Homo sapiens: one gene and its partners. The protein of the gene in region 1 interacts with the protein of each later gene in a pairwise test. Each region holds a gene or a part of one and is shown in the gene's direction. Other genes may lie near its edges.

Region 1 (4,415 bases):
AATCCCAGCACTTTGGGAGGCTGAGGCAGGTGGATCATTTGAGGCCAGGAGTTTGAGACCCCGTCTCTACTAAAAAATATAAAAATTAGCAAGGCGTGGTGGCGAGCGCTTATAGTCCCAGCTACTGTGGAGGCTGAGGCAGGAGAATTGCTTGAACCTGGGAGGTGGAGGTTGCAGTGAGCCGAGATTGCGCCACTGCACCCCAGCCTGGGTGACAGAGCAAGACTCCATCTCAAAAAAAAAAAAACCAGTACAACAATAAAAAAAAAAACAAAATTTAAAAATACAATATAACAACTATTTACATAGCATTTACATTGTACTAGGTATTTTAAGTAATCTAGAGATGATTCAAAGTATACAGGAGGGTGTAGGTAGGTTATATGCAGTTACTATGCCAATTTATATAGAAGATGGGAACATATGCAGATTTTGGTATCAAGGGAGGTCCTGGAACCAGTCTCCCACAGTTGCCAAGAGACAGCTGTATGCTGAGAACTTTACTGCACTACCACAGTTCAGACTGTTCAACTTAGGCCTAGGCTTCTGCCCTTCATGGTGAGATAATGAATAGAACTCAGTCCTTTTGTCGCTGTGATACAAACAGGTAGTTTCACAGTAATCCTCTTTCTAAACAAAAAAATACATATTGTCATTCCCTTTTGAAGATACTGGGATATCTCTTAATAAAAAGGAGATGACACCCATTCCAGGTGTGGAAGAACCTGACTGTGCAGCTCTGATTGGCTGTTTCTCCCCCAGAGCCTGAACAGCCTATTTTAGTAGCATCTAGTGGGGTGGCTGATGAGGAGAGGATACTGTGAGTGTTCATTTCCTGTGGCATGTTGCCCAGGATGCCAGTATAGAAGTGCATATGAGCTGAATGGCAAATACAAGAAGAGCTGAATTGTTTCTGTCACCTAAGGCTCAGCTAAGTGACTCTCTGTCACTAGGGAGGAATGGGGTGGGCAGACCTTCAGCCACTTCAGGGGCCCGAAGAGCCAAGATGTTTCCTGATGTCAGCTAATGTCTCTGGCCCCCGCATGTCCCTATGGGGCTTGCAGCTTTTGGGAAGTCAGCTGAGTAATGGCTCTGCCACTGCTTTTAATACTGACGTAAATATGCAATTTGAGGAGCAGTGAATTGTATGCTTAGATAATCTAGAAATGTCATGTCCGTGAGGCCTGGGATCTCACCAGCAGCCTGTCTGTTTCCTGCCTACCTGCCCAAGACCTAGTACAAGTGACAGTGCACATGACCTGTCTTGTGGCTGAACCATGAGATTTTCAGTCACCTTCTTTTTTTTTCTTTTTTTTTTGAGACGGAGTCTCACTCTGTCGCCCAGGCTGGAGTGCAGTGGCGTGATCTTGGCTCACTGCGAGCTCCACCTCCCGGGTTCACGCCATTCTCCTGCCTTAGCCTCCCGAGTAGCTGAGACTGTAGGCGCCCACCACCACACCCGGCTAATTTTCTTGTATTTTTAGTAGAGACGGGGTTTCATGTGTTAGCCAGGATGGTCTCGATCTCCTGACCTCGTGATCCGCCTGTCTTGGCCTCCCAAAGTGCTGGGATTACAGACGTGAGCCACCATGCCCAGCCTCAGTCACCTTCTTAACCCCTGACAACAGCATTCTCCGCCTTAATCTTCAGTTTATTTTCAACTTTAATTTTATCAGTTTTTAAAGTAGGTAATGTATGCACAGGGAACAGAGGATTCAAGGGTAAGTAGTGAAAAATCTGCCTCCCACCTCTGCCTACCACCACTCAGTTCTCTTCCCTAGAGACAACCAATATGGATAGACTCTTGTGGAACCTTTCAGGGGGTCTCCAGATTTCTTTTTGGTTTTTGAGACAGAGTCTCACTCTTTCCCCCAGGCTGGAGTGCAGTGGCACAATCTTGTCTCACTGCAACCTTTGCCTCCCCGGTTCAAGCGATTCTCCTGCCTCAGCCTCCCAAGTAGCTGGAATTACAGGCATGTGCCACCACACCTGGCTAATTTTCTGTATTTTTAGTAGAGATGGGGTTTCACCATGTTGGCCAGGTTGGTCTCGAACTCCTGGCCTCAAGTGATCCATCCATCTTGGCCTCCCAAAGTGCTGGGATTACAGGCGTGAGCTACCATGCCAGCCGGGTCTCCAGATTTCTGTCTAAAGGAATAGTCAAGTTGTGTTGACCCTCACTGCTCCATAACTTTCTTCCTGTGATTCCTCCACTGTGGAAGAAATTGGGCTACTAAAGGAAAAATGTCCTCAAACATCCCTTAAAGATTTAAATTGCTAATTTAACTTAAACATAAACATTTTCCGATTCCCATAGTGGGGAGGATGGGGGAGGAAAGCATAAAAGATTTAAATTTTGCTACAGATGATCGTGAATTTTTTTTTTTTTCAAGATGGAGTTTCACTCTTTTTGCCCAGGCTGGAGTGCAATGGCGTGATCTCAGCTCACTGTAACCTCCACCTCCCGAGTTCAAGAGATTCTCCTGCCTCAGCCTCCTGAGTAGCTGGAATTACAGGTGTCCATCACCACACCCGGCTAATTTTTTGTATTTCTAGTAGAGACAGGGTTTCACCATGTTGGCTAGGCTGGTCTCAAACCCCTGACCTCAGGTGATCCACTCACCTAGGCCTCCCAGAGTGCTGGGATTACAAGCATGAGCCACTGTGCCTGGCCAATCCTGATTTTTCTACTATCCCTTTAAAACAATTTTAGCAGGAAGTAAAATCTTCTAAAACAGGAATGGACCAGGAAAGTGCACGGGCTGTAGCCCTTTCCTCCTCAATCTGGGAAGATCTCTTTGCACTTCAGACACTCCCAGGTTAATTGGGGCAATAGGCTTGCTTGGAGATTTTTCTTAAAATGTTTGGAAAACTAATTCCCAAATAGAATTCCACCCACACACACACCCCGACCCTAACCCCTGGGCCCACAGCCTGCCTTGGGTCAGTGAGGCTTTCTGCTCATGGCTTTTGAACTGCTGGAATAAGGGAAGTAAATTAAGAAAAACCTCATTAGAAACAATTTAGCTTCTCTCTTTATGGCATAACTACCCGCAGTAAAAGGGGAAAAAATGACCTAGCCATAGTTTGATGGGGCCCTGGCAGAGGCTTCATTTCTCCAAAAGGTAGATATTACTGGACACTCCTGAGATGAGAAACAGTACTTCCTTACAGTTTAGAAGATCCTGGAGTATGCTTGATTGTGTTCATTGACTGTTGGCGCACTTGAACTTACCTGAGTTTTTCCTAATGCTTCCCCCATCCTCCCTCCTCACCACCTTGCCTGGACACTAGTTTGCACAAGTAAGACCATTCAATGCTTCTTCTCTGCATGTTTTTTTCATCTGCCATCTCGCATGCAATGCTCTGCCACTGTGCTATTGTTGTAGCTAATCGTTTTAAATTCCAGTGAGTCCCTGGCTGGGTCACTGAGGGGCCTGCTGGCCTTATGTTTAAAGATCATTAATCAAGGGTTAGAAACAGCTATGATCCATGAATCATTGTCTCTTCCCCTTGTGAGGTCTGCAGAGTAAAACTGTCCAGTGGAGGATGGGATAGAAGCATGGAGGCTTTAAATGTTTTTGAACATGAGGCATTTAGGGGCTGGAGTTAGAAGGCAGTTTCCTTTCTCCTCCTCAGACTAAGATCAAATGAAGATTTTTTTATGGAATGACTTTTAGCTATTCTAGACAAGGATAGAAAACAAAAGGGATGACAGCCACAGTCCTCAGTTCTTGGCTGTATGTGGATTATCTCTGGGAAAAACTCATTTTAATATTCCCCTATGCTAGGTCTTTAGAGAAATGTAAATGGGATGAGAAGGAGGTTTATATGCAATTGTAAGATAACTTGGATTATTTGTGCTTTTGTGAGTCTTTCTGTTTCTGCACCCCTCCTTTTGAAATGGATGGATGGTCAGCAATATATTGATCCATCCCGGACAGTTTTACTCTACAGCTCTGTCCATCTTCCTTGTCATCATGGTTTTGAAGTACCCTGGCTGCAGTGTTGGCGTACAGCCTGAATAGGCTCAGAGAGTAACAGTGGCCACTTTCCCTGTCTGATTTAGAACCTCAGATCTTGCCCTCTGAGGCACAGCCACTTAGCCAAACAGCCCTGGGGGGTCTGGGAGTCCCTTAGTGAAAGAGACTGGGAGTCACGTACTAGGTAAGCTGGCACCCGGGGCCAGGGCACTTGAAATCTTCCAATCAAGGTGACTAGTACTACTCCAGGTTATGCAGGAATCATGCCTAAAATCTCATCAACCTTCAACCCACCCATAGGACAGACCTGGAGGTGGTATATACTATCTGCAAACTAATATACCACTTTTCCTTTTATTTGATTTTCTGTCCTCCCTATTCTGCCCAATCCGCATGGTTTGAAATTGAGCTTATGGCCCATTGTCTTCTTTC
Region 2 (2,899 bases), on another chromosome or scaffold:
CAAATTGTTACAGGAGGCTAACTCCTTTTAACTTTAGGGTTCTGGAGATGTTTGGGTGGGATAAGATCAGTTGAAATTTTAAAACATTGTCTATCTACTGTATGCTTACAGCACAATGGGGAAACCAAGATGATAGATGTGACCCATGACCTCAAAAAGTTTCAGAACTAGATATAAATTACCTGTTGGGTTTTGTTTTCTAGTATTTGGTTTAATGCTTCTAGTTGCTTAGTTACTGGAGGAATAAATAGAAAATGAAAACAAGTACAGTTGTGCCCTATTCACTAAATATAAGAAATTACAGGGCCGGGCGTGGTGGCTCACGCCTGTAATCCCAACACTTCGGGAGGCTGAGTTGGGCAGATCACAAAGTCAGGAGATCGAGACCATCCTGGCTAACATAGTGATACCCCCATCTCTACTAAAAATACCAAAAAAAAAAAAATTAGCCAGGCCTGGTGGCGGGCACCTGTAGTCCCACCTGCTTGGGAGGCTGAGGCAGGAGAATGATGTGAACCCGGGAGGCGGAGCTTGCAGTGAGCCAAGACTGTCTCAAAAAAAAAAAAAAATTACAAATATGTTTAATACCTAATAGGCCAGGCCTGAAAGAAATTTGTTTCCTTAAACATTTGACATTAATTTTGGTTCTAAATATAATTATAGTTTCAGAATTTGTTGATCTAAAATTTATAGGCCAGGCATAGTAGCCCACATCTGTAATCCCAGTACTTTGGGAGGCAGAGGTGGGAGAATTGCTTGAGGCCAGCTGTTTGAGACCAGCCTGGGCAACATAGCAAGACTCCATCTCTACAGAAAGTATTAAAATGAACAAACAAAAAAAAGCCAGGTGTGGGGGTGTGGACCTGTAGTCCTAGCTACTTGAGAGGCTGAGGCTGTAGTGAGCTATGATCGTGCAGTTTCACTCCAGCCTAGGTGACAGAGCAAGACCATGTCTCAAAAAAAAAAAGTAAAATTTAAATTATGTTTGGGTTTTGTGAGGTTATAAAGCATTCCTTTTAGACTTATAAAATGAAAGCTTATGTTTACACGTTTCATAGGACTGTTTTTAAAATTTATTTTAATGTTCTTTCTGCTGCTTTCATTTATCTCTTATTTTTGTCTTTTCCCATGTTCTAATCTACCTAAAGTTATAGCTATATTTAATATAGTGTTAATATTAAGTATTGTATTTAGGGAAATAACGGATACATATTGAAATAGGGATCGTATTACCTTATAGTAATCTAAAGAAATAGCAACTCTGCACCTGTGTAGTCTTACCATGTTAAAAGAACCAAATAATAAATCCATAAATATTTTTATAGAGAACATGTGGACCAGCAGTGCAGAGAAGCTGTTTAGGATTCTCAAAATTGTAATATAATTGATGCAGATAATGGAGATCTCATTTCCCTCCTTTGTTTTCCCTAAACAGTATAAAAGAAGCCTGTATTGTTTTGAATTTGAACGTCGGTTCTGCACTACTGCTGAAAGATGTACTGCAGTCAGCTTCAGGGCAGCTTCCTGCCACAGCAGCATTAAATGAAGTTGGAATTTACAAACTGGCTCAACAAGATGTTGAGATTCTACTTAATTTGAGGACAAATTGGCCTAATACTGGAAAATAATGTCTTTCAGAAAAAGGTTTCTTTGGTTTTTGTTTCTAAGAAAGAGGAAGCCAATTGGATTTCAAGTTATATGATGAAATTCTGAATTAATGAAACTGGAAAACTTTATAGAATTACTTATTATCTTGGATTTATGGTGTTATTAAAATGCTGACCATATTTCCTTCATCCTCTTGTTCCTAAGGAAACAAAAACAGAAAACGAAACAATGAAAACTCAATTCTATTTACAAGTATAAATGCTGAGTATGTCTGTTGAAGACGAGCAGAGATATTAAATTATAACCAACTTTCAATTTCCTGTGCTAATTAAGGGAAATTCTGTTGTGGATAATCAAACATAGCCAATAAATTTTTTTAAAACTCCCTTTGAATGCATATTTGTAATTGAGGCACCTGTATCTAGTTTGGGAATTAACTGTATTTCCATGAGGAAACTGGCAGGGCACAGTGTCTCATGCCTGTAATCCCAGCACTTTGGGAGGCTGAGGTAGGAGGATTGCTTGAGGCAGGAGTGCGAAAACATCCTGGCCAACATGTCAAGACCCTGATGCATGCCTGTAGTTCTAGCTACTTGGGAGGCTGAGGTGGGAGGCTAGCTTGAGCCCAGGAGGTCAAGACTACAGTGAGCTCTGATTGTGACACGGCACAGCAGCCTGGGCAAGCGAACAAGACCCTGTCTCTAAAGAACAAAACAAAACACATTGTGAGATGGTGAATAAGATAGGATTGTTCTTCATTTCTCACAAATGCCCTTCTATTTTAAATGCTTCCTAGTTTCATTCTGTGTGACAGTGGGCAACCCTTTCTTTCTGGATGAAACATTTCAGGCCATGGCACTCTGACTCAAACATTCCCATGTGGTAGGGAATGTAATTAAACATTTTTATTATTTATGTAACTTATGAGACAAAAGTCTCAAAAGTTTATTTTTTCTTGTAACTTTTCCTTGTCCTTGGGGTATATTCAATAATAGTTACTTGACTAATAAAATCTCAGAGTAAAACTCTTTAAAAAATTGAGCTAGATTCCCTGGAAACTTTCCACAACTATTAAATTTTATTCCAATGGTTTTTCTCTGACTTAGCAGTGGGTTAGTACTTTTAATCCTGTAATATCTCAAAATCTAAAATTATCAGACTAACATGCAGCCTATGCTTCTGATAAACATTTACTTTGTGATAATTTTGAGGAAATATTTTGAGATAGATTCTATTAGTATGTATTTTATAGAGAGAGTTTCCAGCTAGTGTGTTGAGCTCAAAATGTTTC
Region 3 (3,910 bases), on another chromosome or scaffold:
GACCTTAGGTGATCCGCCCGCCTCGGCCTCCCAAAGTGCTGGGATTACAGCGTAAGCCACCGTGCCTGGCCTAGTTGTAGACTTTTGATAGCTTATGGTTGAATTTTTATGGGATTGGTTAATAGATTGGATTCATGAGGTAGCATGTAGGGCAACACATTCTATTTTGGATTTTTCATTTACTTTGTGTTTCCTTCCAGATACGAAGCTCCTAGAAGATGGAGTCATTTCTTAAAAATTTCTATATTTTCCCATTAGCCGTAGGATGTTCTCCATATACTAGCCACTCATTAAATAGTTGCTGAATGTAAGAAATACAGACTTGAATATGCAAGAGCCTATGCACTGAATTATTTTTATTTTATTACTTTATTTTATTTTATTTTTTGAGACAGGGTCTCACTCTGTCACTCAGGCTGGAGTGTAGTAGCACGATTATGGGTCACTGCAGCTTGCACTCCCAAGCTCAAACAGTCTTCACACTTCAGCTCCCAAAGTAGCTGGGACTACAGGCTTGTGCCACCATGCCCAGCTAATTTTTTTTGTTGTTGTTGTTAGAAATGGGATCTCACTATGTTGCTCCGGCTGGTCTTGGAACACCTGGGCTCAAGCAATTCTCCTGCCTTGGCTTCCCAAAGTGCTGGGATTACACCTGTCAGCCGCCATGCCTGGCCTTGAATTATTTTATAAGTAGGATATAATTACATGTAAATTTACCTTGCAAGTTTTTTCCTATTTGATTTTTTGGTGACATTTATGTTCTGTAAAGTTTTGCAGTACTTTTCATATTTGCATAATTCATGCAAGGAACATAGTTTTGCTTTTTTCTTCTTAAGTAATATACTTTGTAGAAAATTTGGATGAGGTAACAGCTTTGTTTTGAATCATTTACAACATGAATTTTTTCTCATTTGATTTTTAAAGTCAGGTTTATTGAGTTTTAATACATATATGGTACAAGTCACCCTTTTTAGGTGTAAAGGTTTATGAATTACAATAAACTTACATAGTCATGTAACCACCACAATGTAAAATTTTCCTTGTACCCTCTGTAGTCAGTCCTGTCCCTCCACTACTAGCCTTTGGTAAACACTGATATATTTTCTGTCCCTCTAGTTTTTGCCTTTTCCAGAATGCCATATAAGGGGCATTATGTAGTATATAGCCTTTTGTGTTTGACTTCTTGGTACTAGAAGTCCTAATACATTTGAAAATCATCAGTGTTATTGTGTTTTGTCAGTACTTTGTTCCTTCTTATTACTGAGTAATATTCTAGAGTATGAAAGAATCATAATTTGTTCATCCATTCACCAACTGATGGATTTCTGGATTGTTTCTAGTTTTAGGCAGTGGTGAATATGGCTGTAAACATTTGTATACAGGTGTTGGTGCAACCTAAGTCTTCACTCTTTTGGGTAAATTTAAGGGAAAAGATCAACTGTTGTACCCTGGTAACAGTGGATGTATCCACATAGGCTGCATAGGCCAGTGCTTGAACTGCATCTGATCTGAATCTTGGCCGAGCACTTTGTGATCCTCTTGGAATATAAGATTATGGAAGTTTGCGAGGACCTTATGTGAAGCCCTTTCTCAATCTCTTCATCTGCCGAGGAGGCTGTACGTGATAACAGTGCCTCATCACCTCCTAGTTCCCATGAGATGAGGCTCTCTATTGTACCCTTTTAGGTAGTAGCTGCAGGCTGTAAGACTTTAGTTGCAGCATGGCATTGGCTCCTCCGCAACAGAGTGTCATATCTATGTTGTAGTCACCTGGCTCCTTTTGTTTTAGTATTGCTTTACACAAGGGCTGTATCTTTTACTACTATTCCTTCTGCCCTCCATGTAAATGGTAGGCTTTCTGAACCTAACAAGCAGTTGGGCAGGTCTATCACATTGCCTTCTCTTTGCCTTGACAATAAATATCTAATAGTGGGATTATTACCGTATGGTAAATGTGTGTTTAGTTTTATACAAATTGCCAAACTCTTTTCCAAAAACGATGGTACCGTTTTGCGTTCCCACCAGCAAAGATCCAGTTGTTCTTCATCTTTGTCAGCATTTGGTTTTGTCAGGTTTTAAAATTTTAGCTATTCTCTTGTTAGTGATGTCTCAAAGGCCATATATGACAAGCCTACAACTAACATCATACTCAACCATGAAAAGTTGAAACCTTTTCCTCTAAGATCAGGAATAAGACAGTGGTGCCCAGTGTCACTAGTTCTATTTAATCAAGTACTGCAAAGTACTAGAAGTCCTAGCCAGCCAGTTAGGAAAGAAAAATAAACAAAAGGCATCAAAATTGGAAGAAGTTAAATTGTCTCTGTTTGCAAATGACATGATTCCTTATGTATACAAAACCCTAAAGACTCCACCAAAAGACTGTTAGAATTAATTAACGAATTTAGTAAAGTTGTAGGAGACAAGATCAACATACAAAAATCTGTTGTGTTTCTACATATTAACTACAAACGATCTGAAAAATTAAGAAAACATTTCCATTTATAACAGCAGAAAGAATAGAATACTTAGGAATAAATGTAATCAAGGAGGTGAAAGGTCTGTACACTAAAAACTATAAGACATTTATGAAAGTAATTGAAGAACATGCAAATAAATGGGAAGATATCCCGTGCTCATGAATTGGTAGATTTGATATTGTTAACATGTCCATACTACACAAAGCCATCTACAGATTTAATGCAATCTCTATCAATATTCCAATGGTATTTTTCACAAAAATAGAAAAACCCTAAAATTCATAGGAAACCACAAAATACTTTGAATAGCCAAAGCAGTTTTGAATAAGAACAAAGTTGGAGGTATCATACTTCCTGATTTCAAACTATATTACAAAGCTATAGGCCTGGCATGGTGGTTCATGCTTGTTATCCCAGCAGTTTGGGAGGCCTAGGTAGCCAGATCACCTGAGGTCAGGAGTTCAAGACCAGCCTGGCCAGCGTGGAGAAACCTCATCTCTACTAAAAATACAAAAATTATAGGGCATGCTGGCACACGCCTGTAGTCCCAGCTACTCAGGAGGCTGAGTTGGGAGAATCGCTTGAACCCAGGAAGTGGAGGTTGCAGTGAGCTGAGATCATGCCACTGCACTCCATCCTGGGCAACAGAGCGAGACTCTGTCTCAAAAAAAGCTATAGTAATCAAAACAGTGTGTTACTGGCATAAAAGACATGTAGACTAATGGAACAGAATGGAGCCCGGAAATGTAGCCACATCTGTGCAGTCAACTAAGCTTTGATAAAGGCACCAGGTACACAATGGGGAAAGGATAATTCAGTAAATGGTATTGGGAAAACTATATCCACATGCAAAAGAATGAAATTTGATTGTTATATCACACATACAAATTAGCTAGAAATGGATTAAAGACTTAAATGTAAGATCTGAAATTATAAAACTCTTTGGTATGGGTCAGATGTTTGTTCCCTTCAAATCTCTTGTTGAAATGTGATTCCCAGTGTTGGAGGTGGGTCTTGGTGGGAGATAATTGGATTATGGGGGCAGATCCCTCATGAATGATGTAGCACCATCCCTTTAGTGATAAGTGAGTTCTTGCTTGGTTCACGTGAGAACTGGTTGTTTAAAATTAGTCTGGGAGCCCCCCCACCATGTGACATGCTGGCTCCACTTCTGCCATGATTACACCTCACCAGAAGTACGTGCCAGCACTGTGCTTTGTGTAAAGCCTGCAGAACCAAGAGCCGATTAAACCTCTTTTCTTTATAAATTACCCAGCCTCAGGTATTCCTTCATACGATCATAAGAATGGACTGATACACTCCTAGAAGAAAACATAGGGGAAAAAGCTCCTTGATTCTGGTCTTGACAATGGTTTTTATAAATATGACACCAAAAGCACAGGCAACAAAAGCAAGAAAAGATGAGAGTGACT
Region 4 (3,625 bases), about 65 Mb from region 1:
TTGAGCTCAGGAGTTTGAGAACAGCCTGACTAACATGGGAAACCCCATCTCTACTAAAAATACAAAAATTAGCCCAGCATTGTGGTGCGTGCCTGTAATCCCATCTACTTGGGGGGCTGAGGCAGGAGAATTGCTTGAACCTGGGAGGCGGAGGTTGTAGTGAGCTCAGATCATGCCATTGCACTCCAGCCTGGGCGACAGAGCAAGACTCTGTCTCAAAAAAAAAAAAAAAAAAGTTATGGGGCAGGCTCGGTGGCTCATTCTTGTAATCCCAGTATATTGGGAGGCTGAAGGGTCAGATCGCTTGAGTCCAGGAGTTCGAGACCAGCCTGGGCAACATGGCAAAACCTTGTCTCTACAAAAAAAATGGCCAGTGGTAGTATGAGCCTTTAGTCCGAGGGGCTGTGGTTAGAGGATCACTGAGCCCAGGAGGCGGTTGCAGTGAACCATGTTTGTGCCACTGCACTCCAGGCTGGGCTACACAGTAAGACTCTGTCTCAAATAAATAAAGATGTGGGAAGAGTGGAGAGGCAGTGCAGTGGGGAGCCCTTGCCAGCCACGGCCTGAAGGACAAGGAGAGGGGGGTGTTCTAGAAACTTGTCTTAGAACCTGGAGAGAAGAGCTGTGGTGAGGCCATCTGGTGAGGTAAGGGGTGAGGGGCCTCTGGCTGAGGGTATGGTCAACCTCCAGCAGAGGAAGCTGGCCAGTGACAACGTCATCCTCACACTGCTGCCCACTCTCCAGTTCACTCTGGTGCTTTGTCTTGGTCAGACCCAAAGAGAAGGCATTGGAGTGTGTTGGTGTGGGACGCACAGGTCCATCTCCGGGCACAGAGCATTGCGGAGAAGGGTGGAGAGTGTCTAGAGGAGTCAGTGGAGATGTCCAGCACTCATAAACAAGCCAGCCATGGCCAGGCGCGGTGGCTCACACCTGTAATTCCAGCACTTTGGGAGGCCAAGGCAGGAGGATCACTTGAGGTCAGGAGTTCAAGACCAGCCTGGCCAACATGGTGAAACCCTGTCTCTACTAAAAAATACAAAAGTGATCAGGGCATGGTGGAGCATGCATCTGTAGGCCCAGCTACTGTACTCAGAAGGCTGAGGTGGGAGCCTCCCAGGAGGCTGAGCCTGGGAGGTTGAGGCTACAGTGAGCTGAGATTGCACTGCTGCACTCCAGCATGGGCGACAGAATGAGACCCTATCTCAAAAAGAAAAAGAAAAAGGGAAAAAAAAAGCTATGCAAAAGCAGGGCCATCAGGGCCAAGTGAGTTTCCTTCCACAGTTTCCCCTCAGAGGCAGCCACTGTGGCCAGTTTTTTATCTATCCTTCCAGAAAGATTCTGTGCATATACATTTTTACATAAAGAGTGCATATTCTCTACTGTTGGTCTCCAAAGTGGGGTGCACTTTGCTTTACATTTATTACTTATTCTAATGTTTCTAAATTTCAGTCTTTTTTGGTTTTTCATAAGGAACTTTATTAGGCCGCCTCTTGCAACAAAAGCTCATAACTAGACAGTCTCCTCTGTCAGGAGCAAAATTAAATGATTTTTTCCCGGTGGGAAAATAGAGACCCTTAATGTCTAGAGTCTATCATGTACATATTAGTTCAGCTGTCTTCACTGTTCTGACCTTTCTGACTCTGGACCCACCCACCACTTAACAAAGGATCTTGAAGGGTCTTCTGTGATCTTCCCCTTCTTTTTAATTTTTCTAAATTGCTACATAGTGGTTTTGAGGCTATACCTTATTTAATGATTTAACAGATTGCTATTGATAGAAATTCAGGTTGTTTCCAGTCTTTACTGTTACATGCAGTGTTGCAGTTAATACGTTTATACTTTGGTCTATTATCTTTTGTTCTGCAAGCACCTCTGTAGGATTAATGCCTAAAAGTAGAATTGCTAAGTTCAAAGGTTATTGCACATCATTGCTCAGCTAGGGAGTGCCAAGTTCCCCCCAATATGTTTCATGCTGGCTGGACGCGGTGGCTCAGGCCTGTAATCCCAACACTTTGGGAGGCCGAGGCAGGTGGATCACCTGAGGTCAGAAATTCAAGACCAGCCTGGCCAACATGGTGAAACCCTGTCTCTACTAAAAATACAACAATGAGCCAGGAGTGGTGGTGCACACCTGTAATCCCAGCTCTTTGGGAGCCTGAGGCAGGAGAATTGCTTGAACTAGGGAGGCGGAGGTTGCAGTGAGCTGAAATTATGCCACTGCACTCCAGCCTGGGTGACAGAGCCAGACTCTGTCTCAAAAAAAAAAAAAAAGTTTCATGCCAAACCAAATAATTCTTCATCTTCTGTACCTAGAGCTGCTTTGAGTGGCTTTTCAAGATTTCAGTCAAAATTGAAGCTCTGGCTGCTAAAAATTGAGCCCAGCTAGGGTGGATTAGAACAAGGCATGGCAGGGGTGGGGGTTGTATATCTTTAAATCCAAATCAAATAATTTTGGATTACCCAAAAGGCCACAGTCAGGTAGCTCTAAGTCTCTGTATCTATAGGGTTTTTGTTCTTTAATTATCTCACAGAACCCCACGGACATATCGTATGTGTACAGTGGGTATGCCCCGCTCAGTGTGCGGCTGGCCCAGCTGCTTTCCCGGCCTGGCTGGCGGAGCATCGAGGAGGTCCTCCGCATCCTCCCAGGGCCCCACTTTGAGGAGCGGCAGCCACTGCCCACAGGACTGCAGAAGAAACGTAAGTCCCAGTCCAGCATCTACAGATAATTATGTACTGTTAGTGTGGTTTTCAGGTATTGTACAGTTGCTTTGTAAAATAGTAAAGCACTTAGGAGTCAGAATTAAATACACCTCTTTTGTTCGTTGCTAATGTATGTAGTAAGAACTCGAATCGGATTATTCCCTGAGGGATAGCAGCTTTCAACTTCTGTGTTGAGAATCTCAGAAGTTAAAAAAAAATGTTGAGATCAAAATCAGTATTCTTAGGTTTCAGATGAACTGTCTGGATGAAGGCACTTGTTTATTCTTATGAATGATAAAATGTTTGAAGAGGTGGGAAGAGAAGCATTAATAATAAATAGTTTTTAATTCTGAAATGTTTAAATTTTAGGTCAACCGGGAGAAAACCGAGTGACTCTGATATTTTTCCTTGGGGGCGTAACCTTCGCTGAAATTGCTGCCCTGCGATTTCTCTCCCAGTTGGAAGATGGAGGTACAGAATATGTCATTGCCACCACTAAACTAATGAATGGAACCAGTTGGATAGAGGCTCTGATGGAAAAACCTTTCTAGGATGTTCAGAGGAGACTTAACAAGTGTACTGCAGAATAAACTACCTCTTTGAAGAAATTGCTGAAAGGAAGTAAAACCCCATAGAAGAAACATGGGAATACAGAATATATTCTGGGGTCAGCTTCTTAAATTATACTACTGTTTACTGCTTTCTCCGTCTCTTTTGTATTCCCTTTTTTTTTTTCCTTTGAGACGGAGTCTTGCTCTGTCACCCAGACTAGAGTGCAGTGGCACGGTCTCACCTCACTGCAACCTCCACCTCCTAGGTTCAAGCAATTCTCCTGCCTCAGCCTCCTGAGTAGCTGGGACTACAGGCATGCACCACCACACCCGGCTAATTTTTGTATTTTTAGTAGCCATGGTGTTTCACC

The links. Proteins that work in one complex are often made in the same cells at the same time.
Region 2: the proteins of DCTN2 (region 1) and RINT1 interact in binary tests that used the Homo sapiens proteins (3 or more experiments, as listed by UniProt).
Region 3: the proteins of DCTN2 (region 1) and ABI2 interact in binary tests that used the Homo sapiens proteins (3 or more experiments, as listed by UniProt).
Region 4: the proteins of DCTN2 (region 1) and VPS33A interact in binary tests that used the Homo sapiens proteins (3 or more experiments, as listed by UniProt).

What each region holds. Positions count from the first base shown.
Region 1 is NC_000012.12:57,540,252-57,544,666, reverse strand, and holds part of DCTN2 (dynactin subunit 2), read left to right. Parts: intron 1-1,676; exon of another isoform or gene 1,677-1,691; coding exon of another isoform or gene 1,692-1,721; intron 1,722-3,294; coding exon of another isoform or gene 3,295-3,303; intron 3,304-4,415. UniProt on the Homo sapiens protein: Part of the dynactin complex that activates the molecular motor dynein for ultra-processive transport along microtubules. In the dynactin soulder domain, binds the ACTR1A filament and acts as a molecular ruler to determine the length.
Region 2 is NC_000007.14:105,565,684-105,568,582, forward strand, and holds the end of RINT1 (RAD50-interacting protein 1), read left to right. Parts: intron 1-639; exon of another isoform or gene 640-1,435; coding exon 1,436-1,628; 3' UTR 1,629-1,770; coding exon of another isoform or gene 1,771-1,807; 3' UTR 1,808-1,994; downstream 1,995-2,899. Other genes in the region: EFCAB10 (EF-hand calcium-binding domain-containing protein 10), read right to left, coding at 1,784-1,807. UniProt on the Homo sapiens protein: Involved in regulation of membrane traffic between the Golgi and the endoplasmic reticulum (ER); the function is proposed to depend on its association in the NRZ complex which is believed to play a role in SNARE assembly at the ER.
Region 3 is NC_000002.12:203,334,889-203,338,798, forward strand, and holds part of ABI2 (abl interactor 2), read left to right. Parts: intron 1-3,910. UniProt on the Homo sapiens protein: Regulator of actin cytoskeleton dynamics underlying cell motility and adhesion. Functions as a component of the WAVE complex, which activates actin nucleating machinery Arp2/3 to drive lamellipodia formation.
Region 4 is NC_000012.12:122,231,875-122,235,499, reverse strand, and holds part of VPS33A (vacuolar protein sorting-associated protein 33A), read left to right. Parts: intron 1-2,531; coding exon 2,532-2,700; intron 2,701-3,072; coding exon 3,073-3,254; 3' UTR 3,255-3,625.